Homo sapiens: one gene and its partners. The protein of the gene in region 7 purifies or fractionates together with the protein of the main gene of each other region. This does not show direct contact. Each region holds a gene or a part of one and is shown on either strand. Other genes may lie near its edges.

What was found.
Region 1: the proteins of PROZ (region 7) and ETV3 purify together in Homo sapiens (affinity purification with mass spectrometry; 2 studies listed by BioGRID and IntAct, with this or other methods). This does not show direct contact.
Region 2: the proteins of PROZ (region 7) and PIP4P1 purify together in Homo sapiens (co-immunoprecipitation; one large-scale study listed by IntAct). This does not show direct contact.
Region 3: the proteins of PROZ (region 7) and ACOT9 purify together in Homo sapiens (affinity purification with mass spectrometry; one large-scale study listed by BioGRID and IntAct). This does not show direct contact.
Region 4: the proteins of PROZ (region 7) and ZNHIT6 purify together in Homo sapiens (affinity purification with mass spectrometry; one large-scale study listed by BioGRID and IntAct). This does not show direct contact.
Region 5: the proteins of PROZ (region 7) and HIGD1A purify together in Homo sapiens (affinity purification with mass spectrometry; one large-scale study listed by BioGRID and IntAct). This does not show direct contact.
Region 6: the proteins of PROZ (region 7) and FOXF2 purify together in Homo sapiens (affinity purification with mass spectrometry; 2 studies listed by BioGRID and IntAct, with this or other methods). This does not show direct contact.

The regions. Positions count from the first base shown.
Region 1 is NC_000001.11:157,120,887-157,124,895, reverse strand, and holds the end of ETV3 (ETS translocation variant 3), read left to right. Parts: coding exon 1-55; 3' UTR 56-3,705; downstream 3,706-4,009. UniProt on the Homo sapiens protein: Transcriptional repressor that contribute to growth arrest during terminal macrophage differentiation by repressing target genes involved in Ras-dependent proliferation. Represses MMP1 promoter activity.
Region 2 is NC_000014.9:20,458,312-20,462,839, reverse strand, and holds the start of PIP4P1 (type 1 phosphatidylinositol 4,5-bisphosphate 4-phosphatase), read left to right. Parts: upstream 1-1,405; 5' UTR 1,406-1,514; coding exon 1,515-1,656; coding exon of another isoform or gene 1,657-1,677; intron 1,678-1,994; coding exon 1,995-2,185; intron 2,186-2,541; coding exon 2,542-2,648; intron 2,649-3,106; coding exon 3,107-3,212; intron 3,213-3,399; coding exon 3,400-3,452; intron 3,453-3,543; coding exon 3,544-3,634; intron 3,635-4,137; coding exon 4,138-4,281; 3' UTR 4,282-4,528. UniProt on the Homo sapiens protein: Catalyzes the hydrolysis of phosphatidylinositol-4,5-bisphosphate (PtdIns-4,5-P2) to phosphatidylinositol-4-phosphate (PtdIns-4-P).
Region 3 is NC_000023.11:23,726,210-23,730,218, reverse strand, and holds part of ACOT9 (acyl-coenzyme A thioesterase 9, mitochondrial isoform a precursor), read left to right. Parts: intron 1-4,009. UniProt on the Homo sapiens protein: Mitochondrial acyl-CoA thioesterase. Catalyzes the hydrolysis of acyl-CoAs into free fatty acids and coenzyme A (CoA), regulating their respective intracellular levels. Regulates both mitochondrial lipid and amino acid metabolism.
Region 4 is NC_000001.11:85,659,663-85,663,671, forward strand, and holds part of ZNHIT6 (box C/D snoRNA protein 1), read right to left. Parts: intron 2,616-4,009; coding exon of another isoform or gene 2,597-2,615; exon of another isoform or gene 2,456-2,596; intron 1-2,455. UniProt on the Homo sapiens protein: Required for box C/D snoRNAs accumulation involved in snoRNA processing, snoRNA transport to the nucleolus and ribosome biogenesis.
Region 5 is NC_000003.12:42,784,546-42,787,595, reverse strand, and holds part of HIGD1A (HIG1 domain family member 1A, mitochondrial), read left to right. Parts: intron 1-1,433; coding exon 1,434-1,568; intron 1,569-2,275; coding exon 2,276-2,325; 3' UTR 2,326-3,050. UniProt on the Homo sapiens protein: Proposed subunit of cytochrome c oxidase (COX, complex IV), which is the terminal component of the mitochondrial respiratory chain that catalyzes the reduction of oxygen to water. May play a role in the assembly of respiratory supercomplexes.
Region 6 is NC_000006.12:1,392,454-1,396,490, forward strand, and holds the end of FOXF2 (forkhead box protein F2), read left to right. Parts: intron 1-2,242; coding exon 2,243-2,406; 3' UTR 2,407-3,150; downstream 3,151-4,037. UniProt on the Homo sapiens protein: Probable transcription activator for a number of lung-specific genes. Mediates up-regulation of the E3 ligase IRF2BPL and drives ubiquitination and degradation of CTNNB1.
Region 7 is NC_000013.11:113,168,499-113,173,246, forward strand, and holds the end of PROZ (vitamin K-dependent protein Z isoform 2 precursor), read left to right. Parts: intron 1-1,303; exon of another isoform or gene 1,304-1,590; intron 1,591-1,914; coding exon 1,915-2,032; intron 2,033-2,871; exon of another isoform or gene 2,872-3,095; coding exon 3,096-3,607; 3' UTR 3,608-3,888; downstream 3,889-4,748. UniProt on the Homo sapiens protein: Appears to assist hemostasis by binding thrombin and promoting its association with phospholipid vesicles. Inhibits activity of the coagulation protease factor Xa in the presence of SERPINA10, calcium and phospholipids.

The DNA of each region.
Region 1 (4,009 bases), on a different chromosome or scaffold from region 7:
TCTCTGGAATGGGTCAGGACCCCAGGGCTTGGCAACAGCAGCTGCTGATGCTTAGAACTGGAAGTGGATTAGGAGCTGTTTATACTATAATCAAATACATACATGTATTTATGTAGCAAGATTTCAGGGTGGGGGGGAGGGAGTTAAACTGGTTTGATCATTCTAGGGGCATAGACTTGTATTTTTATGTTTTGGGGATGGGATGGGGTTATCTTCTGTTGTAAATTAGGTGGGATATGAACACACTTATTTTCCTGGTGAGTAGGACACAGGGAGGGTATTGAACTCAAAGGAGAAGGAGCCTCTATTTCCTGTTGAGGCTTATACTTTCTGACAAGGAAACTCCCAAAGGGCCAAGATACTTTTTGGTCCCATGATAGTCAGGTTCCAGACTTCTTTCTTTTCTATTGTATTTGTATGTGGAAAGCCATTAATGAATTTATTTTACTCCAAGAGATACACATAAAAGGGAAAAGGGCATGGTTGGGAGGTTGAGCAGTAAGAGACCATTAATACTAAGTATTTTGCCTGAAATGCTTCTTTATAATTATTTCAGGGAAGGAATAAGATAATCTCAGACTTACTGGGGTGGGGCTTGGGGAATGTTTGGATGTTGCTCTTTTTCTTCTTCCTTCTTTTTTTTTTTTTTTTTTTTTTGGTTGGTGTTGTTTGGCATTTTTTTCTTTTCCTTTTTAAAGAAAATGTTTTCAGGAAACATGAACAAACATACTGCCAATTATAGTGGGGCTGGGAAGGCACAGGAGCTGGCGACCTCTCAGCTGCATAGTTGGGACGGCAAACCCTGCTGTGAGCTTCTCAGACTTTTCACCTACTTCACCTATTAAGAAGCCATGAGGAGTTGTAAACTCTTGTTCAGGGAAGAAAAGAGGGCAGGAGGAAGTAACCCAATGCCTTTAAATACAAAACAGATGAAAAACAAAATACTCATTTTTCCTTTTCTATTGTGGGTTTGGGGAGCCAAACCAAGTGTGACTGTGAGCACGTTCACTGAGAGGCATGACAACATTATTGAAGAGGTCTTTCCATTATGTCTGGTTCTCTTATTTTCTTAAGTCAAGCCTTAACTATGAACATACTTTAAGATGATACGGGTCTGTCACCATAAACCTGTAAAAGGGCATCGACAGCTTTTCAGATAATCCAGGAATGTTGAGACATGGCTAAGTTTCTAGCTGATACTTAGTCATTCCCTCTTGATATTGTTGGGATGGGTAGCCAAAAGGCAGGCTTGTGGGAGTTAAGAGCCAATGATACCTGGAAACATGGGAGGTAGCTGGGGGTACAAGTGGATGTTGAGACTGAAGGAAGAGGTGGAAAGAAGACACAGAAGGCACCCAGATGCCAAAAGGCCTGGCATGAATGAGAGTTGGCATCTGTCCTGTTGTGGTGTTCCCATTCTTGCCATACCCATTTGCCCAGATTGTTCTGATTCTCATGTTCAATTGACTATCCCACATGAGACTACAGTTTATAGGCAGTGAGGAATTGTTTCTTCCTGGGAAATGTCCTTCCAGCAACTTCAGAGGAATGGGAAAGTGTTAATCTTACGTGAAGCAAAGGAGCCTGGACTAGGGGCAGAGAGAAAGAAGCAGCAGCCCACCTTCTTTGTGTTTGCACATGTGCCTATGTCGTGTACATTGGTACCTGACTGTGGCTCAGATCTGCGTCGCAGCAGCGAGAGAAGAAATCACTCCATATCCGATGAGAGGAAGGGTGGCACAGAGATGGTGTCTACAATTAGAGACATTTCTGACTCCACCTTAGCCTAAGCAAACTTTATATACTGAGTAACATTTGAAGGTTGTCTTTTAATGGTGGGGGGTGTTTTTTCCTTTTTAAACTACAGTGCTTGCACAAGAGAGGGAGGGACTCAGAAAAGGTTAGGGCAGGTGAGGGAGACAGTAGATGGCCTGGGATGACTTGAGTCCATCATACTATTGCTTGGCAGGTGTCCTCCCCCATGTTTGATTCAAATTCCATGAGTGACCTACCTTTCCCCAGGAATGGGACTGAGAGGGTAGTCTCCAGCAACTCAGTCTGCACAGGGCTCCCCGTTCAGGCTGCCTTTGGTGGTTGTGCTTTTGTAAGTTTCTTTCTCTGCACTTCGACTTACCTCTGAATCAGAAAGCAAGCCCAGCAGGTGAATGAGGGATGTCTGCTTGGCATTGCCCAATCTAACCAGGGAGGCTGGCTGGCCACCCACTGTCCGCTAGAGGGGAGAGCTAGCAGGTGTTGGTATGAACTCAGGAATAGAAACACGAGGCCTTTTTAAATACGAGGGAGAAGAATCCATGATGCATACCTGTAACCCCCTAGAACCCAAGTGCCAGAATTCCTAGATGCTGCTTCTGTTTGAACAAAATGTCACTGCTTTTACACTTGAAAAAAACACACTCGAAAAATGTTCAACTCCATGAAAAATATTTTTTGGCTTTAAGAAATTGTTTGGTGTTTAACTGTTTCCTTTGATTGCCATTCCACCAGTAAATTGTTGGTTGATTTGCACTGCACTCTGGGGTTGGGGTTGGGAGGGGAGGGTCCTTATACAGAGCCGAACCTGGGGTTGCTCAGGAAGTGGGCCAGGGAATGTGGAAGTCGTTGACATTGCCTGGGCCAAAAGAGTGGGAGATAGTTTTTCTCCCCTCAGCCCACTCCTGGTAGCACCTGTCGCCAGCCTGGTACAAAGCCAGGCCTTTTTCTTCTGTGAGCATCTCATCACTGTCCAGCAGCAGGTGGAAAAAGGGGGACAACAACCAGACCTATTTTTTCTCCCCCATTTTTTCCAAATTTTGCTGTGCCAAATGTTTAAAATTTTATAAATATGAATCTATTGAAATTTCCTTAATCAAGAGCTTCTTCGTGTAAAGTTTGCTTTTTTAGCTATAGAAAAAGAAAACAGTAAATATCTCTTAATGGCATCCAGCCTTGCTGAGCTCACCTTTTTTCCTGAAGAATGGGTAGGAGTGAAATATTTAATGTAAACATTTCACCAAGTCCCTTTACCCTAATTTTGAAGCTGCATTAAACCCAACTCACTAACACAGGGAATGATTGCACCCTAGTCCTCTGTGGGCCAAGAAACTTTCAGAAGCATTAAAAAAATAGTTGAAGTATATCACTTCTCACCAAGTGGGTAGAGTCAGTTGGCTGTTTGTCCCTTGTTTTTTATTTATTCCATAATTATGTTTGTGCTTTTTGTTTTGTAAACAGTAATGGAACGTACATTTTTATTTTGTTTAGAAGACAACTTTGATTCAATCTTTCAAGAACTGTTCCATTCTTGGTTTCTTCTTAGGGGGATAAAAAGTTACCAGTTAATTTGTTTTGAGATATTTAAGCATTCTTTGAGTTATAGAATTGTGATGCAGGGATTTGTGAATGAGACATTTACATGTGAAAGGTGACTTCACTAGTTACCTGCTTGAGCAGAGTAAAGTGTGTATATGTACATAAAATGTAAGTAATCTTAACTCCATTGTGCAGTGCCTTTTAGATGTTCCGCTTTCTATAAAGTCTTCAAATTTTTGCATATATATTATATATATATGATGTAATGTTATAGAAATATATGTATAATATACATATTTTTTCCAGGGGTATCTGATAGCTCTGTATTTTGTTATGGAAGTTGAAAGAAAAAAGTATTTTACCTCAGAAATTAAATAAAAAAATACTTTTAAGTAATGTTTGCTGAGAGTTGGTTTTGTTGTTCATCATACACTGTGCTGGGGTGGTCATGCCAGAGAATTTGCCAAGTCCGTCCTCGCTCCCCCACCCTCATGCATTGTTATTCCTATTGTACAGGTACCAACATAGTAAGGAAATAGGTCTCTTAACAGTTCTGGAGATTTTCCATTTTCTTGAGTGAATGGCTGCTACCAGTTAAAACTAACTGAAGCCAGAGACGCAAGTTAGGTGGAAATTTCTATCTCAAGATTATTGTGAAGATTCTTTAAGAGTACATGTCAAAGCCAGACACAAAAGACCA
Region 2 (4,528 bases), on a different chromosome or scaffold from region 7:
TAGCAGCCAAGTGCTGGGACATCTGCAGTTCCTTTGTTATTACATATTTGGGGCTGGCTGTACTTTCTTTGATGCACTTCCTTTCTTAGTGGAGAGTCTGCTAGCCAAACTGATAATGGACCTCCTCGGGGTTTATTGTTTTTATCAATTCCTTGTTGCTTCCCATATTTAAAGCAGTCCCAGTTTGGGCTATGACTTGGGAAAAAATCCAGGTGTGGTTCAGGCGCCCATAAAGACCACACGAGACTTCAGGTAGGGGAGGAGGCACTGCCCCTTTGCTGGAAGCAAAGTTGAGACAGGCCTAAAGACTGTCCCATCTGTCAAATAAGGTGACGAAAATAACCTTGTATTTGATTAATCCAATCTACAAACTTGTGCGTATGTTAAAGGTTGGTGGTCATAAAACTGAGTAAAGGCACGGTGGCTTGTCCCTGTAGTCCCAGCTACTGGGAAGGCTTAGGCAGGAGATCAAACTCAGGAGTTTGAGTCCAGCATAGGCAAGACCCCATCTCTATTGAATTTTTTTTTTTTTTTTTTTAGTAAAACGATGAAATCTTCTAGTAGTGGAGACACTAATGAAAAGATAATTTAACAATTTGATCAGCAATGGGGAAAGACGGGGCTCTGTAAGGACAGCTTCCAGGAAAACCCAGTCTTGTGTCCTGTCCTGAAAGTGACTCTAGCGACAAAGGCTGGAGTGATAATCTTAACTTTTTAATCCATTTCCTTCTGGTACCTCATTACTCTGACTTTTTAAAGGTACTTCTTTGAGTAGAACAGCTAACTTTGTCTACTGTTCCCCACCGTCCATTTTCTCCCCGCTCAGAAGATCCCAAGCTTCCGCACTCCTTTATTGCACCCGCCCAGCCTCCTTTAAAATGCATAAGCCACGCCCCCCATGTTCTGGCGCTAAGTTCGGGCCAATGCAGTTGCGCCGCTAGGATCACAGGACGAAAGAAGTAAAGTCACCAGCCAATAGGAAACCAGCTACAACGCAAAGCCGGAGAAAAGTGTTTTAGTGGTGTCTTTGAACCAATGAGGAGCAGAGCAACAGGGACCGTGCAGCTTCCAGAAACACGTGACCAGTTGAGCAGACGCAGCCTAGCCCTACCTCCTGGTCTGGAGGTAGCGCGATGGGCGTCGCTCCCAATAGCTTGCAGAACCTCTAGTCACGTGCAGGTTTTGCAAGCCCAGCAGCATCTGGCAGGTCATGTGACAGTTGACGTTTGTGCGTCGCTCCCCAATGGAAAAGGAGAGCTGCCTTCACAGGACCAGGAATTGGTTTATCTACGCGAATAATAGCATGACCCGGGCGGGGATAGCCTATCACGTGCTGCTAGACGGAACGGGGCGGGGCAGGCCACTGGTTGCGGAGTGAGCTGGGCGCGCGGCGCGCAGGCGCCCTGGGGACCCGGTAGCGGCGGTGGCGGTGGCGGCGGTGGCGGTGGCTGCGGCGACGGCAGAGGCGAAGGGAGCCGGATCGCCGACCTGAGCGGGAGGCGGCGGTGGCGGCCATGGCGGCAGATGGAGAGCGTTCCCCGCTGCTGTCTGAGCCCATCGACGGTGGCGCGGGCGGCAACGGTTTAGTGGGGCCCGGCGGGAGTGGGGCTGGGCCCGGGGGAGGCCTGACCCCCTCCGCACCACCGTACGGAGCCGGTAAACATGCCCCGCCCCAGGGTAAGCCGGGGCGGGTCCGAGGTGCTCCCCGGGGTACTCTGAAAGCCGGGGAGGGGGCGGGACCGAGGGCGGAGGCGGGTCCCAGTCGCCAGGTGCGGGACTGCTGCACCTGTGACTGGGCGAGGCTTCCTTCCCTCCGTAATCGCGACCACAGCCTAGGGACGGAAGGGGGTTCTGAGCAACCTGATAGAAGTGCCAATTATGAGAAGCCCTCCGAGCTTGGTCAGAGGGTTGAAGATCAGAAGGACTTCCCTACCACCGTGGAGCATCAGTGGGGGTGTAAGTGATCCCAGCCCTTCTATTTGCTTCCTCTCCAGCATTTCCCCCGTTTCCCGAGGGGCATCCAGCCGTGTTGCCTGGGGAGGACCCACCCCCCTATTCACCCTTAACTAGCCCGGACAGTGGGAGTGCCCCTATGATCACCTGCCGAGTCTGCCAATCTCTCATCAACGTGGAAGGCAAGATGCATCAGCATGTAGTCAAATGTGGTGTCTGCAATGAAGCCACCGTGAGTTACACATATCTATGAAATGGGCCCTGTTTCCTGGATCCTCTTTCTGATGTCTTGGTTCTAGACCCTGACCTTCCGGCTATTAGCCAAGTGCTTTTGATGATACCCAGGTTTCAGTTCCAGGTGTCTCACACAGCCATTTCCCCAGAAGCCACTCACCAAAGCTAATGTTCACTTTCTCTCACTTTTACACCTAGCCTAGTTCCTATTTGCAAATCTCATGATATAGTCTTTCTTTTATTTCTCCTTCCTGGTTAGCACCTTATTTTTCTGATCTCATAAAGTGTTTTTGGAGGGAAGTGGAGGGGATTGGGATTAGAGGTTTGCTTGCTGATGACCCTATTATTCTCTAGCCAATCAAGAATGCACCCCCAGGGAAAAAATATGTTCGATGCCCCTGTAACTGTCTCCTTATCTGCAAAGTGACATCCCAACGGATTGCATGCCCTCGGCCCTACTGGTAAGAGGCATAAGGTGGGGAAGGGCCTAAGTGGGGAACTGGAAAGTCAAAAAAGGATGAGCGTATACAGAGAATGTAAAGGTGAGAGAGCCTAGTGTTTATTTAGGAGAAAAGGCTTTGAAGCATGTGCCTCAGGAATGTTATAGCTGTCTTTCTCGTTTCTCAATAAAAATATTGAGATGAAATGATGTCGTTTCGGAGAATAGAGAGCCTTGGGGACTGGGTGTGTTATCCTGAGGTCGGAGGGGAATTGGGGACCTGAAGTTTAAACAGTGCTCTTTCTTTCTCAAGGATTCTTGAGGGTATACAGTTGGGGGACAGAGTATCTTAAGTACAGAGAAGTCGAGTGACTTAATAGACAGGGAGTGGGGGATGTGGAACAGGGACTGTGAAGATTTTTAGGATTAAAAATTTTTCAAACACAAGTTTGAAAATACAAGTCTTTTTCTTTTGTATAGCAAAAGAATCATCAACCTGGGGCCTGTGCATCCCGGACCTCTGAGTCCAGAACCCCAACCCATGGGTGTCAGGGTTATCTGTGGACATTGCAAGAATACTTTTCTGGTGAGGAAGGGGTATTGGGAAGGGGAGGGGAAAGGAGACTAAGAGTCATTTCGAGTATATTTCTTAGAGTAATGGTAATGACCCCTGAAAGGTCTGTCCTATGGGAACATGTTCTGCATCCCCACCCCAAGGTTCTCATTGAGGGAGACCCTGCTTGTGCTATTATTTTTGTTTTCTTTCTCCATAGTGGACAGAGTTCACAGACCGCACTTTGGCACGTTGTCCTCACTGCAGGAAAGTGTAAGTGATTAGGGATTGAGCTGGTAATTGATGTATGGAGTAAAAACTACAAGGCCATAGAAAGCATCCATTTCTATTTGCCTCCCCACAGGTCATCTATTGGGCGCAGATACCCACGTAAGAGATGTATCTGCTGCTTCTTGCTTGGCTTGCTTTTGGCAGTCACTGCCACTGGCCTTGCCGTGAGTACCCTTGCCCCAACCTCTTTCATTCTGCAGCCTCATCTCCATAGGCTAAGATTTGGGAAACTGCTACCCTAAAAAAAAGTGGAAGAAACTTGGGGGACTAGTTTGTTTTGTTTTAAGATATGGATGAGCTAAAGTGCAAAGTGGCTGATCAAACAGACTTTATTACTACTACAAGAGTGAAAAACAGCCTTCCTTTCTCTGTAGGATGAGGATAGGACAGTGAAATTCTTAATTTAAGAGTTGCTATTTTTCAAACCTGGCTCAGTTGTCAGATATTAAGAAAAACTGAGATACAGTGTGGGATGGGATGAGTATGTTACGCCTAAGGGAAGGAAGCTGATCAGCTCTGCCTTTAAGAAGGTCCCTGAGGGTGGCTACATGTGGATAAGGAACAAGGACTGAAGCGTGAGTTATTACTGTTCTTAGAACTAATAGGAGGTAGTGGAGACCAACATTAACCCCATCTTTCTTTTCTTCTCCCTCCTTATCTTCATCAGTTTGGCACATGGAAGCATGCACGGCGATATGGAGGCATCTATGCAGCCTGGGCATTTGTCATCCTGTTGGCTGTGCTGTGTTTGGGCCGGGCTCTTTATTGGGCCTGTATGAAGGTCAGCCACCCTGTCCAGAACTTCTCCTGAGCCTGATGACCCACAGACTGTGCCTGGCCCCTCCCTGGTGGGGACAGTGACACTACGAAGGGAGCTGGGGTAGTTAAAGGCTCCCGGGGCTTCTAGAAGGAAGCCAAGCAGCTGCCTTCCTTTTCCCTGGGGAGAGGTAGGAAGGAACCAGGCCCTCACTTAGGTTTGGAGGGGCAGATAAGAGCACTGCTGACCATCTGCTTTCCTCCAAGGGTTGCTGTGTCTAGGGTGAAGTAGGCAAAACGTT
Region 3 (4,009 bases), on a different chromosome or scaffold from region 7:
GGAGGCTGAGGCAAGAGAATCACTTGAACCTGGGAGGCAGAGGTTGCGGTGAGCTGAGATCGTGCCATTGCACTACAGCCTGGGTAACAAGAGTGAAACTCCATCTCCAAAAAAAAAAAAAAAAAATGGCATCTACTACTTCTGAATTGTCATAATTTTTTTCTTATAAATGTAGATTCCTATTTAATGGAGGTATAGTCTGAATAATCTTTCTTACTAGTAACTTTAAAAAAAGAAAGTCTTAAACTTACAGAAAAGTTGCAAATACAGTATAAAGAATTTTTCTGTGGCCAGGCGCGGTGGCTCACGCCTATAATCCCAGCACTTTGGGAGGCTGAGGCAGGCAGATCACAAGGTCAGGAGATCGAGACCATCCTGGCTAACATGGTGAAACCCCATCTCTACTAAAAATACAAAAAATTAGCCAGGCGTGGTGGCATACGCCTGTAGTCCCAGCTATTCAGGAGGCTGAGGCAGGAGAATCACTTGAACCTGGGAGGTGGAGGTTGCATTGAGCCGAGATCGCGCCACTGCACTCCAGCCTGGGCGACAGAGTGAGACTCCGTCTCAAAAATAAAAAAGAAAAAAATTTTTTGTCCCTGAATTATGTGAGAATAAGTGGCTGACATGATGCCACATCACCCCCAAATATTTGAATATGTCTTTCCTACAAACAAGGACATTCTTCTACATAACTACAAAACAACCATAAAAAATCAGGAAATTAACACTGATGTGTCATACTGTCTAATCCTCAGGTCCCATTCAACTTTTGCCAGTGGTCCTTCATAGCAGAAGGATCCAGTTCTGAATCATATGTTGATTTAATTGTCATGTCAGGACTAGTTCCTTAATCTTTCTTTGACTTTCGTGACTTTGACATGGTTCTTTTGTGTATTGTCCCTCAATTTGGGTCTGTGTGGTGCTTCCTCATGATTAGCTTTGGGTTATGCATCTCTGGCAGGAATGTCACAGAAGGGATGCTCTGTTCTTATTGTATCCTATCAAGTGGTGCATGGTTTTGATTTGTCTCATTACTGATGATATCAGCTTTGCTTACTGGATGACGATGATGTCTGCCACTGTTCTTCACTGTAAAGTTACTCTTTTCCCCTTTGTAATTAATAAGTACCTTATGTGGGGGGGGGTGGCAGGTAACTTTGAGACCTTCATCAGACTTTCAATTCATTATTTTTAAATCAGTATGGACTCAGGAATTCCTATGTTACTGAATGGACTATAATATGTTACTATCATCTATTTGATGTTCACATGATCCCAGGAGTGTCCCAGTCCCTTCAGGCTAGCTTCTGTGTGGTTTTCTTTGATGTGTCCCCATTATTCTTTGAGCACTTTCTCACTTTCTGGCACAATAAAATATTCTAGGCTCATCTTATGCTTTTCCCTGCCCCAGTCCTAGAATCACCCACATCTCCAAGGAGCCCTTTTTTGAAATGGAGAATGATATTTTGAAGTGGAGGATGATATTTTGAAATGGAGATATGTGCGTTGGGAGTGGTCATTATTCCTGGGTATCACTGCTCCCATACCCTCTTAGTGGAGGAGCTGGGAAATATATGTGCATATACGTACATATATGTTATTTCTAAATCTTTGTACAGATGTATGTATGAAAACCATGGGATCGCACTGATAGCTCCAATTCCAGTTCAGCCACCACGGGGTTCATTCTCATTTCCTTCCTTTCCATATTTGTAATTCCCTTCTCCAACTGGCTCCATTCTCCTTAATATATTGACTTATTTAATCAGTTCCGCTGTATGTGACCAATTTCCTATGGCTGCCACCCCTCATGCATCATGGATGCTCCCCTCACCTTACCTGGGCTCTGGTACCCCACACCAGGTCCCCCTCTGCAGGCTCACCCTCTTCATTGTGCTCAAGCTGTGACATGCTCTGCCATCACTCTTGCAGCCTCTCTGCAAGGATGTCCTCCTCACCGTGCTTGGATGCCAGCACCCTACTCTAGGTTACCTTACTTGCTCCCACCTAATGATATTTGGGCTGAATGGTTGGGAAAGGGTCTGAAAAAGGGTTCTAATATATTGTTTAAAAAACTATTTTTTTATAGAGATGGGGTCTCCCTGTGTTGCCCAGGTTTTTCGTGAACTCCTGGGCTCAAAGGATCTTCCTGCCTCAGCCTCCTAAAGTTCTGATTACAGGTGTGAGCCGCCGTGCCTGGCCTTTTTTTTTTTTTTTGAGACAGAGTCTCACTCTTGTTGCCCGGCCTGGAGTAGAGTGGTCCGATCTTGGCTCATTGCATCTTCTGCCTCTGGGTTCAGGCGATTCTCCTGCCTCAGCCTCCTGAACAGCTGGGATTACAGGCACCCGCCATCACATCTGGCTAATTTTTGTATTTTTAGTAGAGACGGGGTTTCACCATGTTGGCCAGTCTGGTCTCAAACTCCTGACCTCAGGTGATCTGCCTGCCTCGGCCTCCCAAAGTGCTGGGATTACAGGTGTGAGCCACCATGCCAGGCCCTAACTTTTAAAATATAGATACAAGCTTGTTGTTAAGCTTACGCCTAGCAACTACTTTTCTCTAGATTAAATAAACCCAGTTAAAAATTCTTGGCTGGGCACAGTGGCTCACACCTGTAATCCTTGCACTTTGGGAGATCGAGGCAGGAGGATCGCTTGAGGCCAAGACTTTGAGACCAGCCTGGGAAACATAGTGAGTCCCCATCTCTACAAAACCCAAAAAATTAGCTGGGCATGGTGGCATGCACTAGTAGTTCCAGCTACTCAGAAGACTGAGGTGGGAGGATTGCTTCAGCCCAGGAAGTCGAGGCTGCAGTGAGCTGTGGTGACACCACTGCACTACAGCCTGATTGACTTTGGTTTGCTTAGGTGTCCTTATATATACAAACTCCCCTGCCACTACCCTCTTTCTTGCTCATTAACTTCTGTTGATGGCCAGTCCCTTTAACCTGTTCACTTGATTCTATTCCTTCTATTTCTTCAAGGAACTGCCTTATCACTTGGCTTTCTCCCTCATTTCCTGAGCCTTTTCTCAACTTCACTTTTCCCTCAAGTTATAAACATATTCAAGGTTCTTCCATCTTAAAATGAAAAATAGGCCGGGCAGGGTGGCTTACGCCTGTAATCCCAGTAGTTTGGGAGGCCGAGGCGGGTGGATCACTTGAGGCCAGGAGTTCGAGACCAGCCTGGGCAATATGGTGAAACCCCGTCTCTACTAAAACTACAAAAAGTAGCCGGGCGTGGTGGTGCGTGCCTGTAATCCCAGCTACTCGGGAGGCTGAGGCACGAGAATCGCTTGAGCCTGGGAGGCAGAGGTTGCAGTGAGCTGAGATAGACTCCAGCCTGGACAACAGAGCGAGACTCTGTCTCAAAAACACAAAAATTAGCCGGGTGTAGTGGCATGTGCCTGTAGTCCCAACTACTCAGGAGGTTGAGGCAGGAGAATGGCTTGAACCCGGGAGGTGGAGGCTGCAGTGAGCTGAGATCGCACCACTGCATTCCAGCCTGGGTGACAGAGTGAGGCTCTGAGTCAAAAAAAAAAAAAAAGATAAGTAAAAAATCCTCTTTCCTTATAACACCTCACACTTTCTTCCTTACTTCATAGCTCACTTTCTGAAAAGAACCTAGAAAATCACCTGCTCTCATTGCCTCTTTATGCTAACTTCCTGTTAATTAAACATTTCCCGGTCGGCTGTGTTCCGGCTTCTGCTCCTCCACGCCATTGAATCTGCTCTTGCCAAGCTCGCCATTGGCCCCTTTACTGCACAGTTGAATGGATACTTTTCAGGGCTGACCTGACCCCTTTGTGGCTTCTTATATCGTCCAGCCCATCCTTGGGCTTTGGTGACATTTCCTTCTGCTTCTCTGGCTGCTCTTTTGTAGTCCCCTTTGTAGGTTCCTCTTTTTCTGTTGATCCCTTAAATGTAGGTTATCCCCAGGGTTTTGTCTTCTGCCCTTTCAAAAACTGATTATTTTTTGAATTTATTTTATTTTATTTTGTTTATTT
Region 4 (4,009 bases), on a different chromosome or scaffold from region 7:
CATAGCTGAGTAAGACATGCAGGACACTCATTAAGAAATGTGATGTAGTGATTTCTCCATGTTCTGAGTTTGTCTCACGCAATCGTTTTCAAATCAGGAAAAATATAAAAGTGCTTAACAAAATGCAGAGCCAAGCTTACTAAAGTTAGAGAACAACTGTAAAACCAAAACTTTACTTATGCTTCCCTGACCACACACCCCAGCCTGGAATTATTCTTTTTAAAATTGCAGAATATTCTTTATGTTGAAAAGAAACTTGAAATGCAAAATACTGTTTTTCTAAACCAGCCACCTTAGTGCCCACAGATCATAGAATTCATACATTCTTTTCCCTGTGTGTAATGTAATACAGATGTACTTACAATACTTTAAAAGTGTTTCCAGCATTCAAGGATTAAATGCTTCACATCTTTTAAACATTATTTCTCTTTGAAATAAGCAGTGTTTTTTTCAAAGTTAGTAGCAATTATATAAAAAAGAAAAATGAGATTATATCAGATACCCAAGTAAAAGATTAACTTACAAAGTAAAATATAAAATGGTGATAACTAAATTTTTCTTGGGAGGAAATAAGACCTGGACTCTCAAACAGGAACTTTTCAAGTGGCATCCTACAAGCACTTGGCAATAACTTATCTTCTGTGCATTTTAGCTAAATCATAAGGCTTCTAATGAAAGGCATTTTTCAAATAAGGGAATGTTTTTTACTTGTTTCAGTTTTTGGTAAATAATTTTCAGTGCATATTTAATGTTTTAGGTATCTGATTTCTTTTTGTAATATTAAATCTTAATTGGGTTTCTCTAGATTTCCAAAGCTGAAACCAAGAAGCAACAAAAAGAGTTCTTCAAAGGCCACATGAGAATCAGAGCCTAAAATTATTGCTGATATAAAATATGTTCCTAGCAGAGGAATGTTCAGAGGTACATAAAAATTACTATGCAACAAGTTAAACATGCTTTGGATCCTAAAACTGTAATGATTACACTTATTTGGATCCTGAAACTGTAATGATTACACTTATTTGGATCCTGAAACTGTAATGATTACACTTACTTGGATCCTGAAACTGTAATGATTATACTTAAAAAAACTTGGTTCCTGTTTTACATGCTAAGCAGGCACTTAAAAAGCACTAAGGATGCAAAGATTTATAAGAGGCTTGTCAACTGATAAATTATTTTAAAAATATTTTATGCAATGAAAATCTGGTATGTTGTGTGGTTTTGATTAGAATCAGTGGATTTTATTTAGTGTTTAGCCTAAAATGTTGCAAACTTCTAATCAGCAATACGCTATTGAGTGTCAGTAAGCTTCTGGGCCACAGCTTTCCAACCTGTTAAATGAAGCGTTCAGATTTCACTAAATAATCTTTTAGCTGAAATTCTGAATTTCTTAGATTTTTCTACTACAAGTGGTTACTCTTAATCTACCATTAATATTTATCAGTAATTTAAAAGTAAATTTTGTAAACTGTTCATAAAGAAAGCCTATCAGACACATATGGGGTTAATATTTTATGGACTTGGAATTTAGTTAAATGAAGCAATAACTTTTACTGGTTGTTTGGGTTTGGAGTTTAACGCTGAGTTAAAGTTCCGGCTCCATCATTCACTGGTCTGTGATCCTGGACAAGTTACTTAAGTTATTTAATCCTCAGTTTCCATGCTTGAAAATGGGGATAATGACAGTATCACTTCAGAGAGTTACTGTGAGGGCTAAATGATAAAACACAGAAACTGCTCACTCATTTATTTAAGCCCTAAGCACATGTGTTTGTTTTATATTTTTATTTACCAAAAATAACAACACTTTCCTATAGAAACTCTAGTTCAGGACAAAGTCACTGGATTTCATTAGCAGTGAACATACTGCCTTTATGTGCATTTTGCATTTTAAATGTAGCCTTACAACTTTCTGTATGACCTTCAAATCATTATTTTATTGTCACATTTACTTCCAAGAAGATAAAGGTACTTTGAATGTTTCTGTTTCCACTATCTTGAAGCAAGTTTTAAGAGCCCAGCTTTGCACTGCCTAAAACACTTAGGTTTAGCTCCTTTGCAAGCCATTAAGCTACTGAATCCTAAGGGACAGCTTTATCTTTTTGAAATTTTCACAAACTCTGGTATTTCCATTAATATAATGTCTCTGCTACCATAAGACAAACTACTTAGGTTTGGAGGAATTAAGATACTAACATTTGTCTTTTCTCTTGCCCTCTGGGACCCTTCTTAGACATTTCCTCTTGTTATTTCACTTGCTCACCCTCACAGGTTCACTGGCTGACCCTGCTCTGGGCAGCCTCATGGGCGCATTATGAGGGCAGAACGGCTCAGTGGGCCAAACAGGTGTTACAGTGACATATATAAATAAAAGTTGTCATGATAATCAAGGGTGTGCTTTTAATCTTGACTCTGTCACTAACTTTCAAAGAAACAGGCCAAGCTCTTGAACTTCTTTCTCTGTACTTTATTAGCAAATTAGTGTGCTTTAAAAAAAAAAAAAAAACCTCCTCATAACCACAAAAGACAAGTTTTTAAAGAAACGAAATCACAAACCACTTTATGTCCCATCTGATCACTGACACTCCATGGATCATCGCCCCTTCCACCTGCTAAAAAATACCAAAACTAAGTTTGAATTTCTCCAAATTTAGCAATCTAGTAGCAGGCCCTAGGCCACAGTATTTTTCCACTAAAATAAGATCATTGAATTAGGTGATCACTAAGATCCCTTCAGCTCTAAATTTCTACAATTTTTGATACTTAACTATATTTTTTCACAGTTGTATTTATTTCTCAATCTAGGTTTCTAGATTAAAAGTTCAACTAAATTATTCCAAAAAAGTTTTAATTCTTCTTTTATTTAAACTTTAAAAGGTATTATTTAAAATTTCTCCAAATAATACTTCTGTGTAACAATTTTTGCAACTCCTAATGTTCAAGTCATATAGAAAAGGATTTTGCCATAGTTAATCTTTTTCTCACCCAATCTCTCTTAGTTTTCATATTTTAAAAATCACAGTAGTTAAGTTAGTGGTTTGATGCACTTTGTTTTGGGATTTTTATATATCCACATAAATGAGGACGATACCTGCTTGACATGGAGAGTAGATCATGAATTGTGTAGTACAGACATATGTCTTAATTCAGAAAGCTCACCAGTTCAGAACTGCATTTGGTAAATTATCCTATTCTAACCATGATATTTAAACTATGGATGTGGTTAAATAAAATGGCCAACTATATATTTTAAAACCTGTTTTAAAGAGGGGCTTACAAGGCTCTGACTTGTTCTAGATATTATTTCTTTGAAATCTTTTCTGATTTTCGCTGGTAAATTCAATTACTTTTAAATCCACAAGGCTTGAGTTCCAGTCTTATCACTGGTCCTTATGAGCTATAACTCCACAAGGAGACTCAGTTTTGCCCATCAATATAATGGTAGGAAAGATACCTACTCATGGGTTAGTTTGTAAGGACTATAACAGGTGAAAATGTTTCCAAAGTGTAACTTGCTAAGCTAGCATCAGTAATAAGATTTTATACTCCAAAAGTAATTTGGCACTCCTAGCAAGGAAATGACATACTTATCAGGAATTATATTTATGATTTATGACAGAGACAGAGACTAGTTAGTAGAAAAAGCATGAACTGAACTCTTGACAAACAGGTCTGAGTCCAAATCTTAGCCTTATAAACTGTACAAACTTAGTTTCTTTGGGTAAGTCAATTTTTCAGAGCCTACGATTCCTAATCAGGTAAAGTAGAGAAGACATAGTACATACTTTATTAGAATTAATGCATGTGAAAATGTTATAAGCATTAGCCTGGCATTTATTCTTCAATTGATTGCTCAAATATTTACTTAGTGTCTACTATGCACAGGTAGTCTGCTAGGTAATGGAAGTTCATAGAAATAAACCTTGCACTTTATGGGGGGAGGCAGACAAACAGCTATTGCATTCATTGGCACAAGTATCATGATAGAAATGTAAAGTGACACTGG
Region 5 (3,050 bases), on a different chromosome or scaffold from region 7:
TTTTTGAGATGGAGTCTCGCTCTGTCGCCCAGGCTGGAGTGCAGTGGTGTGATCTCGGCTCACTGCAACCTCCGCCTCCCAGGTTCAAGCATTCTCCTGCCTCAGCCTCCCAAGTAGCTGGGATTACAGGCGCATGCCACCATGCCCGGCTAATTTTTTGTATTTTTAGTAGAGATGACCAGGCTGTTGGCCAGGCTGGTCTCAAACCCCTGATCTCAGGTGATCCACCTGCCTCAACCTCCCAAAGTGCTGGGATGATGGGTGTGAGCTACTGCTCCCAGCCCTAATTTTTTTTTCCTCCTTATGATTTGGAAGTTCTGCGGCTATTCTTACACTGCTTGCTGGTGGTTATCTTTACATTGTCAAACTAGGATGTGTTTTTTTCATCTATTTCCTGTATTAAAATGAATATAAATTTATTCCCTAAGACCTTTAGCACACGTTTTGTTGTGATAATCATAGCCTAATTTCAGATTCTTAATTTTGCTATATTATACCAGTCATTTTCAAGGAACCAGTACAGATTTTTCTGTCTTTATTGCTCACCATTATATCTTAACCATTATGTCTTTATTTCTTGAACTGTCCATTTTGACTCACTGTTTTTATTTGACTGGATATTTTCCTCTAGGTTTTTGTATCAGTACCTGGGTGGCAGCTTGGGAAAGACAGCCCTCCTGTAGTCCCAGTTATTAGGGAGGCTGAGCGAAGAGGATCACCTGAGCCTGGGAGAACAAGGCTGCAGTGAGCTATGATTGTGCGGCTGCACTCCAGCCTGGGCAACAGAGCAAGACCCCATCTCTTAAAAAATAAAATAATAAATCTTAAAAAGAAAACATGGAAGGTCATGTCCTGAATGCTTTTGCCCTCAAAATGAATGAGAGTTTGGCTCTGTATAGAACTCTAGGATCATAATCCTTTTAACTGAAACTAATATTGCTCTATTCTTTTCCTTTATTTACTTCTTCCCAGTACAATATCCCAAAGTTTGAAATATTCAGGCAATGTTTCTCAGTGGTAGTAGTGTGTAGGATTGTCTCTGGTATATTAACTGATTACCTTGAGGGAGGGAAATAGGACAGAGAGGAAATGGAATAAATTCATTCTCTAAGTCAAGACCTTTGGCACACTTTCGTTCTGATAATCATAATCTAGGTTCCTGTTAATTCCCTAGCAGTTTTTTAAAGGAGTTTATCTACTGGCCCCACAAACCCATGTTTTTAAAGATAATCCTGACTTTCTGGATCTGTTGTTGTTTGCTTAAAGATTTTTGGTTTTGATAGGGGAAAACATGAAAAACTCAATTTGTATGTTAGCTAATTAATGATCTGATAAAGAATCCTCATAAAAATAATAGAATGTACATTGACTGATGGTAAAGTCATCTTGGTCCCTTCTCATGCATCTGACATACTTGTTACTTTGTTTTACAGGAATAGCGGGTTTTGCAGCAATTGTTGCATATGGATTATATAAACTGAAGAGCAGGGGAAATACTAAAATGTCCATTCATCTGATCCACATGCGTGTGGCAGCCCAAGGCTTTGTTGTAGGAGCAATGACTGTTGGTAGGTTCCTATAGGAAATTTCAAATTTTCGTTTCTCATTAAGGTATTTCTTTACAAACAAAATAGGTAAATATTTTTAGCTGACCTTTTAGCAGTTGGAGAATATCACTTATACTCATTTTCATGTAAAAAATGAATTAATGAAGATAATTCAAGTAGTGACATAGTTTTTCTATGATATATCCTACTAAGATTTTAAAGAAAAAAAAAATCCTGTCAATCACTGAGTTTATAATTTCATTGAAGAGCCTAGACATGTAATTGGGGTTGATAGTAACATCTGTTATCTGGGAGAGACATACAATTGCTATTTTATTGTGTTTTTAAAGGAGAGATTCTTAAAGTTTAGGTATTACATGCTTCTTCTATTGGCTTTATAATTCATTGACTTTATCTGGTATTATGTAGCAAGAGTGATTCCTTTCAAAGTTACCAGATAAATATTGATTGTTCTTTCAAAGAAATATTGTAACATGTGAAGTAGCCATACCAGCCCTTTGCTACTTGGGAAACTACTGTATGTAACAAGAGTTTTAGAGATTTAAGATGTTTAAGAAGGCAAGAGTATAAGCTTCCTAGGGTCTTATTCCCCTTGTAAATATTCCATGCTAGCAGTGGTGCTACTTTCAGCTATTTTATGAACTGGTTTTTATTTTTGAATATTTAAGAAAATACTGAAATGCTTAACTAGCATTCTTTTTCTTTAGGTATGGGCTATTCCATGTATCGGGAATTCTGGGCAAAACCTAAGCCTTAGAAGAAGAGATGCTGTCTTGGTCTTGTTGGAGGAGCTTGCTTTAGTTAGATGTCTTATTATTAAAGTTACCTATTATTGTTGGAAATAAACTAATTTGTATGGGTTTAGATGGTAACATGGCATTTTGAATATTGGCTTCCTTTCTTGCAGGCTTGATTTGCTTGGTGACCGAATTACTAGTGACTAGTTTACTAACTAGGTCATTCAAGGAAGTCAAGTTAACTTAAACATGTCACCTAAATGCACTTGATGGTGTTGAAATGTCCACCTTCTTAAATTTTTAAGATGAACTTAGTTCTAAAGAAGATAACAGGCCAATCCTGAAGGTACTCCCTGTTTGCTGCAGAATGTCAGATATTTTGGATGTTGCATAAGAGTCCTATTTGCCCCAGTTAATTCAACTTTTGTCTGCCTGTTTTGTGGACTGGCTGGCTCTGTTAGAACTCTGTCCAAAAAGTGCATGGAATATAACTTGTAAAGCTTCCCACAATTGACAATATATATGCATGTGTTTAAACCAAATCCAGAAAGCTTAAACAATAGAGCTGCATAATAGTATTTATTAAAGAATCACAACTGTAAACATGAGAATAATTTAAGGATTCTAGTTTAGTTTTTTGTAATTGCAAATTATATTTTTGCTGCTGATATATTAGAATAATTTTTAAATGTCATCTTGAAATAGAAATATGTATTTTAAGCACTCACGCAAAGGTAAATGAACA
Region 6 (4,037 bases), on a different chromosome or scaffold from region 7:
ACACACACACACACACACACACACCCCTCGGTGCACTGGCCCCTTCCCTTCCCCGCCTGCCTGCTCCTCTCCCAGCCTGCCAGCTGCCCTCCCTGCTCCCCTTCTTCTCCTCTCCCGGCAGATCCACTCAACTTGAACCCGGACTCTGAGGCTTAGCAGCCTTGGAGAAACCGTACTCTAGGAAGAAAAAAAAGCACACAGGAAAGAGACTCCTGACCCTTCCTCAAGGCTGCTCTCGCCCCACCTCATAACACTGGGCGCAGGCACAAGCTCCCAAAACTTCGGAATCTGGATACATTACTGTCTTGGAGGGGGTGAAAACTGCCCAGCAAAGCAAGCCGGCCTCTGTGCCCCTACCCAGCGGCCTCCCGCGGCCGGCCTTCCCTGGGAGCCTCGCAGAACCCCCGACCGAGTCTGGGAACGCCCGGGGGAGACAATAGCTCGGGCCTGACGCCCGACAGGGACCCTCTGCCCTTCCTTCCTCGCTGTCTTGCTCCCGTCCCTATAGGATACCCACCCGGCCCTGTTGCCATCTCCCTGGAGCGCCAGCGGTGGAGGCTTCGGAGGAGCCGGCCGGATGCACCGGGACCCCGCGGGGCCTAGTTGGGAGCGCGCCGCCCACTGAGGCCTGGGGGCCCGGCGAGGCGCGGGGGTGGCCAAGGCAGTCTCCCCGGCACACAGATCAGCACATGTCTACGCGCACACACCCAGCACGACCCTCCCTCCCCCAGCACACCCCAAGGGCCGCGCCCTCCGCTCCTGGGCCTGGTGGCCATGGTCCATGTGCCCCTGCCGGCGCAGGGGCTGCCCTGGAGTTCTCCATTAAGCCCTGCGAGCACTTCAGGAAGGAGCTCGGGCTTCTGTCATCCCGCTCAGCACATCAAAGCGCCGACGGCCGCCTTCGTGGGCAGGTGTGAGCGCTCGCCCTCTCTCCTCCCGAGCCTGCTATTTTGTGGTCCAGGACTTGCCATCAGAACTTGCTTTAACGCGACGAGGGAACTCACCTGTGTGCAGAGCGCCGCGCACACATCGGGGCTCGCGGGACAGGGCAGCTGCGTTAGCGCAGCGCCGGGTGTGTTCGGGTAGGTGTTGCGGGCAAGGAAGTAGGCAGCGGCCCCTGAGCAGCCGCCTCGCTCCGGCATTGCGGGGACACGGCGGGGCTGAGGCCACGAGAGCAGGGCCCGAGCCCGGCGGGCCGTGGTTACGGTTTTCTTGCACTGAAAAACTGAATCCGGCCCGAAGCGACGTGCACTTTATGGTCCCCACACCACTCGGTTAACTAAGAAAAGACCCGGGCGAATGGACCTAACGCAGCCCGGTGCCGAGAGGGCCCGGTCCAGCAGCCTCTGGGGCCCAGTGCGCAGGGCACTGCGGGCCGATTGCGCCCCGGGGCCAGGAGGCGCCGAGAAAGCAAAAGCAAAAGCCGGCGGCGGGTGGAGGTCAAGCGGCCCGGTGCAGGCCGGGGACCGGGGAGCCGCCCCGGGAGAGCAGGGTCCAGGCCTTCTCTGTCCCCCTCCAGCCTGGGGCTACCTCAGGGACTCCTCGCGCTGCCAGATGCTTCGGACCAAAGGGCATTTCTCTGCGCCCTGAAGTCCCGGCTTCTCTAGAGGAAGTCTAAGACGTTCGGGACCCACGAAGATGCCTGCGGAGGGGCAGGAGAAGAGGCGTGCTTTTCTGCCCCATCCCTTCATCTTGCGATTGGGTTGTTTTCTATCGTCCCCTTTGGCACAGGGAGTCCTCTGCGCTCGCTGCTGTGACCGGCCCAGTTAGTTGGGAAACAAGGCTCAGAAAGAAGGCCGCAGTGGTGTTTCTGGGGTAGGGTGCTTGGCCCTCCCTGAAGCCAGGGCTCAGGGCAGCACAGGCCAGGAGCTCTGCCGGGAGAGACCCGGAACCAGAGTCTGGGTCTAGTTGTCCGGTACCTGTGCTCATTCTGAGATTAAAGTGCACGCCCCAGCCTCAGAGAATAAAATTGGAATTCCAGGACATAAGAATCCCCCTCGAGGGGGAACTTGCTCTGTGTTTGTGCGAGCATCAAAACAAAACATAATGATTCCAAAGCAATTCTATGACGTGCAGTTGGTGTGTTTGAGCTACTTCTAAAGCTGGGCTTTCTCTACCAGCTGTCTAGCAATTTACTAAAAGGCACAGCAGCACCTTTTGTACTCTGAGGCAAAATAAGACACCCTGCCATCCACTGGATGACTTTGTTTCTGAAGAGGTTTTTTTTTCTTTCTTCTTTCAGTGGGACTGCCCCGTTACCAGCATCACTCTACTCCAGTGTGTGACAGAAAAGATTTCGTCCTCAACTTCAATGGGATTTCTTCTTTCCATCCCTCAGCTAGCGGGTCGTATTATCACCATCACCACCAGAGCGTCTGTCAGGATATTAAGCCCTGCGTCATGTGAACGGAAAGAGGCCAAGCGATGGCCGCTCTCTCCTCTCCCCTCCTCAGAGGGGGCAGATAGAAACTGGGACGGATTCAAGTCACATGCACGCGGATAGCAGTAAGCCACACACCTGCCACTTAGCCAGAATGCCCAGGATCGCGTTGGTCACTGTTATTTGCCTACTGCTGGAAGAAGGACAACCGCTGGCAAGGTAGCGTTCCCCAATCTGAATACCTGCAGGCTCCCACATGAGGGAGAGGGCAGACTCAGGTGGGAAGATGTGCCATGCGTAAGGCATCAACGTGTATCTGTGGGATCTTCGTTGCCTTCAGTAATCAGGGTGTGAAAAAAGCAGACAAGTTGTGTGTGTGTGTGTGTGTCTAAGAAAACTTGTGTGCTTTTCAAAAAGGCAGTGCTAAGCACAAGATTTCAAGAAAGCCTCTTCTTGTTGCCTAGCTGAGTGGGAGAGTCATTTTCCCCAGACACTACATTTGGATACAGGTGCCAAAGAACATTATTAAGGAATTATTTAGAAACAATGTGTCTAGTTTAAGAAAGTGGTTTTCAGTATTGTGACAATACAACGTTTTTACAAGGTTGTTTTCTACCACCATATTTTAAAGATATTTTTATGACCGTGTATACTCACACTTTGCTTGTATTTTAAAAGGAGGATATATTTGCACTTATGTATACTTTTACAGTTTGCCAAAATATTTTGTTGTAAAATTTTTTTTCAATAAAATGTATATAACAAATAGTTGTTTTAGGGGCTGATTTTCTCTTCGGGCACCCTGAGAGCAATGGATGCCAGTTTCTCCTCCCCGGCAGGCAGCTGTGCAACTCTACCCACACCCCCTCCAGTGGTGTAACTGACATGGTGTGGGGTCTGTGCCTTGAGTAACACAGGCCAGGTTCTGATTGTGAGTCTTCTCAGGAGAAAAACAGTGGAAGAAACGTTTTCTGTTATTTCTTTCTTTACTTCACCCCAGCTTTTTCTGGCAAAACAAAAACCAGAAGGTGAAAGGAACTAGAAAGAAAACCAGGCAAGATACCGACCAGGGTTTGATTTTGAGGAAACCAATTTTGTGCCCCTTCTGTTTTCTTTCCTGTGCCCGGGGAGTGTTCTGCCCTTTGCCCTCTCTCCCTCCCGACTGGCATGGGTTGACAGATGTGGGGCACAGTGGTAAGCCCCCCTCCAGGGTTGGATGCCCAAAGAACAGCACCCTGCTTCTTCCCTTTGCACGTTGCAATTTTGTTATGGGTGGCGGTCACATGCTGTCAGAAATGGGGTTCAGATCTGAAGAATGCAGGGGGATCCCTGAGCTGCAGGGGGCAGGCTCCCAGCAGGGGGTTTAACTTCCTTGGGGAGTTTAATACAGAAGCTGGACTCCCCACACGTTGCTCTGTGGCTGCGGCCTGTCCCACCCTCCAATTCAGAGCCTGGCTGGCCCTGCTCAGCATCGGCACATAGCAAGCCGGTTCAGCCCTTCCTTCCTCCCGGCCTCCTCTCCCCACTCCTCCCTTTTAACCAGGGATTTAACAAGGGAACCCCTCAGCCCCTTTTTCTGTTCCTGCTAGATTTCCCAGTCACCAGTGTTACAGGCAGAGCTGGTGACGCTCCCGATGGAAGAGCAAAATGGGCCAAC
Region 7 (4,748 bases):
GTGCCACAAGACGGCTCCCATCACCCTGCTGCTGTTCCTCACATGTCCTTACCTGTGGCACTTTTAAGATTTTAAATGCTTTTTAATTTTAACTTTCTAAGATTTCCTCTATCATGGATTTTGAATTTAATTATACTGTGTATTGTTTTCATGTTTCTTGCACATAGGGTTTGTTGAGATTCTTGTATTTGTGGGCTAATATCGCTTGTCAAATTTGAAAAATATTTGGTCATAATTTTCTTTTTTTTGAGACCGGGTCTCGCCCTATTGCCTGGGCTGGAGTGTAGTGGTGTGATCATGGCTCACTGCAGCCTCAACCTCCTGGGTTCAGGTGATCCTCCCACCTCAGCGTCTTGAGTAGCTGGGACCATAGGTGTGCACGACCACACACAGCTAATTTTTAAATTTCATGTAGAGATGGGGTCTTGCTATGTTGCTCAGGCTGGTCTCAAACTCCTGGGCTCAAGCAATCCTTCCACCTCAGCCTCCCAAAGTGCTGGGATTATAGGCGTGAGCCACCATGCCTGGCCCATTATTTTCAGATTTTTTTTCTCTCCTCCTTCTCCCTGCTCTGTTTTGGGACTCTAATTACATGTATCTTAAGCTGTTTGAAATCCCATAGCTCAGAGATGGTCTGTTCATTTTTCAAAAATCTCCGTTCTCTCCGTGTTTTACTTTTGATAGTTTCTGTTGTGATGCCTTCAAGGTCATCAATCTGTTCTTCTGCAATGTCTAATCTGCCATTCATCCTGGCCAGTGGATGTTTAACCTCATATATTGTAGCTGTCATCCAAAAATTTAATTTAGGTTTTTAAAAATACGTATTTTTGTCTCTACTTAACTTTTTGAACATTTGGACTACAGTTACAATCACTGTTTAATTGTCCTTGTCTACTAATATCTGTCAGTGCTGACTCAGTTTTGGGATATTTTTCTTCTCATTATGGGTCACATTTTCCTGTTTGTATGCCGTAATGGATTTCCAGACATGTGAATTTTATCCTGTTAGGTGCTGAATATTTTGTGCTCTATACATACACTTGGATATTGTCCTAGGACACAGTTAGGTTGGAAATACTTTCATCCTTTGGCACATTGCTCTTAAGATTTGTCAGTAGGACCAGGGCAGCGCTCAAGTCTAGAGCTAGTTATTCTGACTACTGAAGTGAAACCCTTCTATGCATCCTGCCCCGTGCCCCACTGAGTCAGGGATGTTTTAACTCAGCTGGTGGAAGCAATTGCTATTCCCAGCTTGTGTGAGTGTCTAGCACAGGTCCCTCTCACACTCTTGGGTGGTTCTTACCCGGCCATAATTAGTCTCCATGTACACGTGATCACCACTGCTCTGCTGAAAACTGCTAGGCATGTGGCCATCCTCCAGCATTCTCTACCAAGCTCTCTCCTCTGCCGGACTCTGTTCTGCAGGACTCTGTTCTGCAAACTCCAGCCACTGTGGCCTCCCTGGGCTCTCAGCTTTCTCTCTTCAATTTAGGGAGTCAGCAGGGCTCCAACTGAGATGCCCCGTCCTGCTCTGCACCATGGAAATTCTGGACAGTAGCTGAGACCGTTGTTTCTTGGGGATTACGATTCCTGAAAACCATCATTCCATAGATTTTGTCAATTTTTTGCTTCAGGTGGGAGGGTAAATCTGATCACTGTTACTTCACCTGGGCCGAAAGGGGAAGTGCCGGCCCCATTTAATCCCTAAGCAAACAAAAGCTTAGACTGTCAACAATTCGTTAACAATCCTGTACCATTTGAGTGCTGGGGCAAGAATCAAATACGGCTGTCTGCCTTTGGCGGGGGGTGGGGGTGGGGGTGGGGGGGTGGTCCATATCCCTATCCAGTAGACTTTACTGCCCCTAATCCTGCAAATTGTCACCAGCTATTTATTGTCTGTTTTGATTTTTAAAGGTAAAGTTAACAAATTCCGAAGGAAAAGACTTCTGTGGTGGTGTTATAATACGGGAAAATTTTGTACTGACAACAGCAAAATGTTCACTGTTACACAGGAATATTACTGTAAAAACATGTAAGTATTTTATCATGAGTTTTTATAAAACCACATTGGAAATACACTATCCTATGTAAGAATGAAATGACAAATTTAAAACTGGACTGTTTCTAATGCAACATAGAACTGAATTTACTGTCAATAAAACTGAGATACTTATCAACTCAGGAAGCATATGTAAAATACCAGCAGAAGCCTGGGCCCAGCGACAGGCAAGTGCTAACTCACACTCGGCAAGGGAGGAAATCACAGCCTACATAAGGATGACTTCATTTCCCACTGAAATTGAGCAGTTGTGGCATAAGAGATGGATAATTGGCTAAAAATCGGAAGAATGGGGCTCGAATCCCCCAGCAGTTGAGACCTCAGGCTGAGGCAGTGGCCTTCTCATCGGCTTATCTGTGCCTATTTCTTTCTTTTTTTTTTTTGAGACAGAGTCTCACTCAATCCCTCAGGCTGGAGTGCAGTGGCATGATCCAGGCTCACTGCAACCTCTGCCTCCTGGGTTCAAGCGATTCTCATGCCTCAGCCTCCCGAGTAGCTGGGACTACAGGCATGCACCACCATATCCCACTAATTTTTTGTATTTTTAGTAGAAATGGGGTTTTGCTATGTTGGAAAAGCTGGTCTTTACTCCTGGCCTTAAGTGATCGACCTGCCTCGGCCTCCCGAAGCGCTGGGATTACAGATGTGAGCCACTGTGCCTGGCCCTTAAATATTTTTCAATCAACAAAATAACGTGAAAACCACTTCTCAACAGCCAATGTTTGACTGGCCTGGAGACGTTCCACATCACTGCTTCCTGCTTTTTAATCATTTCACCACACCCCACTGCACTCCAAAACAGAAGAACTAACCTTGACTGTTTTTAAAGGCTGTGGCACTTGGTTGCAATCGTGCAATCTGTGAGTGGCCTTTCTGTCCGCAGAAAGGCACAGTGTCCACACCACGGGGCGGTGAGCCTGCGGGTCCTCCAGGGCCGGTCTCTCCCTCCTCACGTGGCTCCCTGAGAAGCTCGTTTGAGCATTATGTCCCCTTGAAAATCAGACTGTAAAGAACTGACGATTGTTCATGATTTCAGATTTTAACAGAACGAGCCAAGACCCGCTGATGATCAAGATAACGCACGTCCATGTGCACATGCGGTATGACGCGGACGCGGGGGAGAATGACCTGTCACTGCTGGAGCTGGAGTGGCCCATCCAGTGCCCAGGTGCGGGGCTCCCCGTGTGCACCCCTGAGAAAGACTTCGCTGAGCACCTCCTCATCCCACGCACCAGGGGCCTCCTCAGCGGCTGGGCACGCAATGGCACTGACCTGGGCAACTCGCTGACCACGCGGCCTGTCACACTTGTGGAGGGGGAGGAGTGCGGGCAGGTCCTGAATGTGACTGTCACCACCAGGACCTACTGTGAGAGAAGCAGCGTGGCGGCCATGCACTGGATGGATGGAAGTGTGGTCACCAGAGAACACAGAGGCTCCTGGTTTCTCACGGGGGTCCTGGGCTCGCAGCCAGTAGGAGGGCAGGCTCACATGGTCCTTGTCACCAAGGTCTCCAGGTACTCACTCTGGTTTAAACAGATCATGAACTAACTGAAACTCAGCTAGCCAGAATGAACAACACAACCGGAAGCGGGATTCCAAGCTGGCACTGCCACTGTGGAGGGCGCTGAAACTTCATCACACACTGAGAGGCCGTCACAGCCCCAGACCACCCGCTTGGCCCACGCAGCAGCAGAGCCGCCGTTTGCTGGGTTGTTTACCGAGCACTGTGACCTTTCTTTCCCTGGAACTCTTTATCTCAATAGAGACCTTAAAAGAAAACATGAGATACGTTAAATAATAAAATAAGATAATCTGTCAGTCATAAAGCAGCCTGGTTTCCAGAAATTCTTTCCTTCTCCAAGTCCAGTGTTCCCTGTGCTCAGGGAATAGCCACCCCAGCCTGCACACTGGTGAGTGTGTTCTGGTGCAGAAGCGACAACAATCTCCGGTTACAGCAGAAAGTGACCTCCTCTGTTGGTTTACCAATTGCCACTGTGACTGAGGACCATGGCTCAGTGCAGAAGCAGCCACTAGAAGCAGGTTGGCAATGGAGGAGAATGACCCTGTGGGTATCCCAGAGAGGCAGCATTAGAGGAAAGGGCCAGAGAGCACAAGAGAGGCTGAGGAGGCACGCCGGCGTCTCACGGGGTTGTGCACCCGCCCTTCTCTGGGAGGGTTCCCACGGAAGGTTCCGGGGCCCGAAGTCAGGGCTGAGCACTGAGACCCAGCTCTCTGCTCGTCCCACCAGGTGGCTCTTGGACAACTGTTCCACCTCTTCATGCCTCAGGGTCGCCCAGGGTAGAATCCCAGCACCTCACCAATGGGCTGATGGGCAGCTAGGGCAACGCCCAGCACTGTTGTGGCTGGAGTGTGTGTCCCTTCAAAACTCCAAAATTGGAACTTACCCCAAGATGATGATATGGGGAGGTGGGGCCCTTGGGAGGTGACTAGGCCATGAGGGCTCTGCCAGCCCCTTCCATCTCTTCTCCCATACGAGGACACTGCAGTGAGGTGCTACCCTGGAGACAGAGAGCCCTCAGCAGACACCAAATCTGCCGGCACCCAGATCTTGAACTTCCCAGCCCCCAGATCTGTGAGAAATGAGTTTCTGTTATCACCCAGTCCATGGTATTTTGTAGAACAGACCAGGACAGCACGTGCTGAATCACAGTAAACACCTGCTGTCATG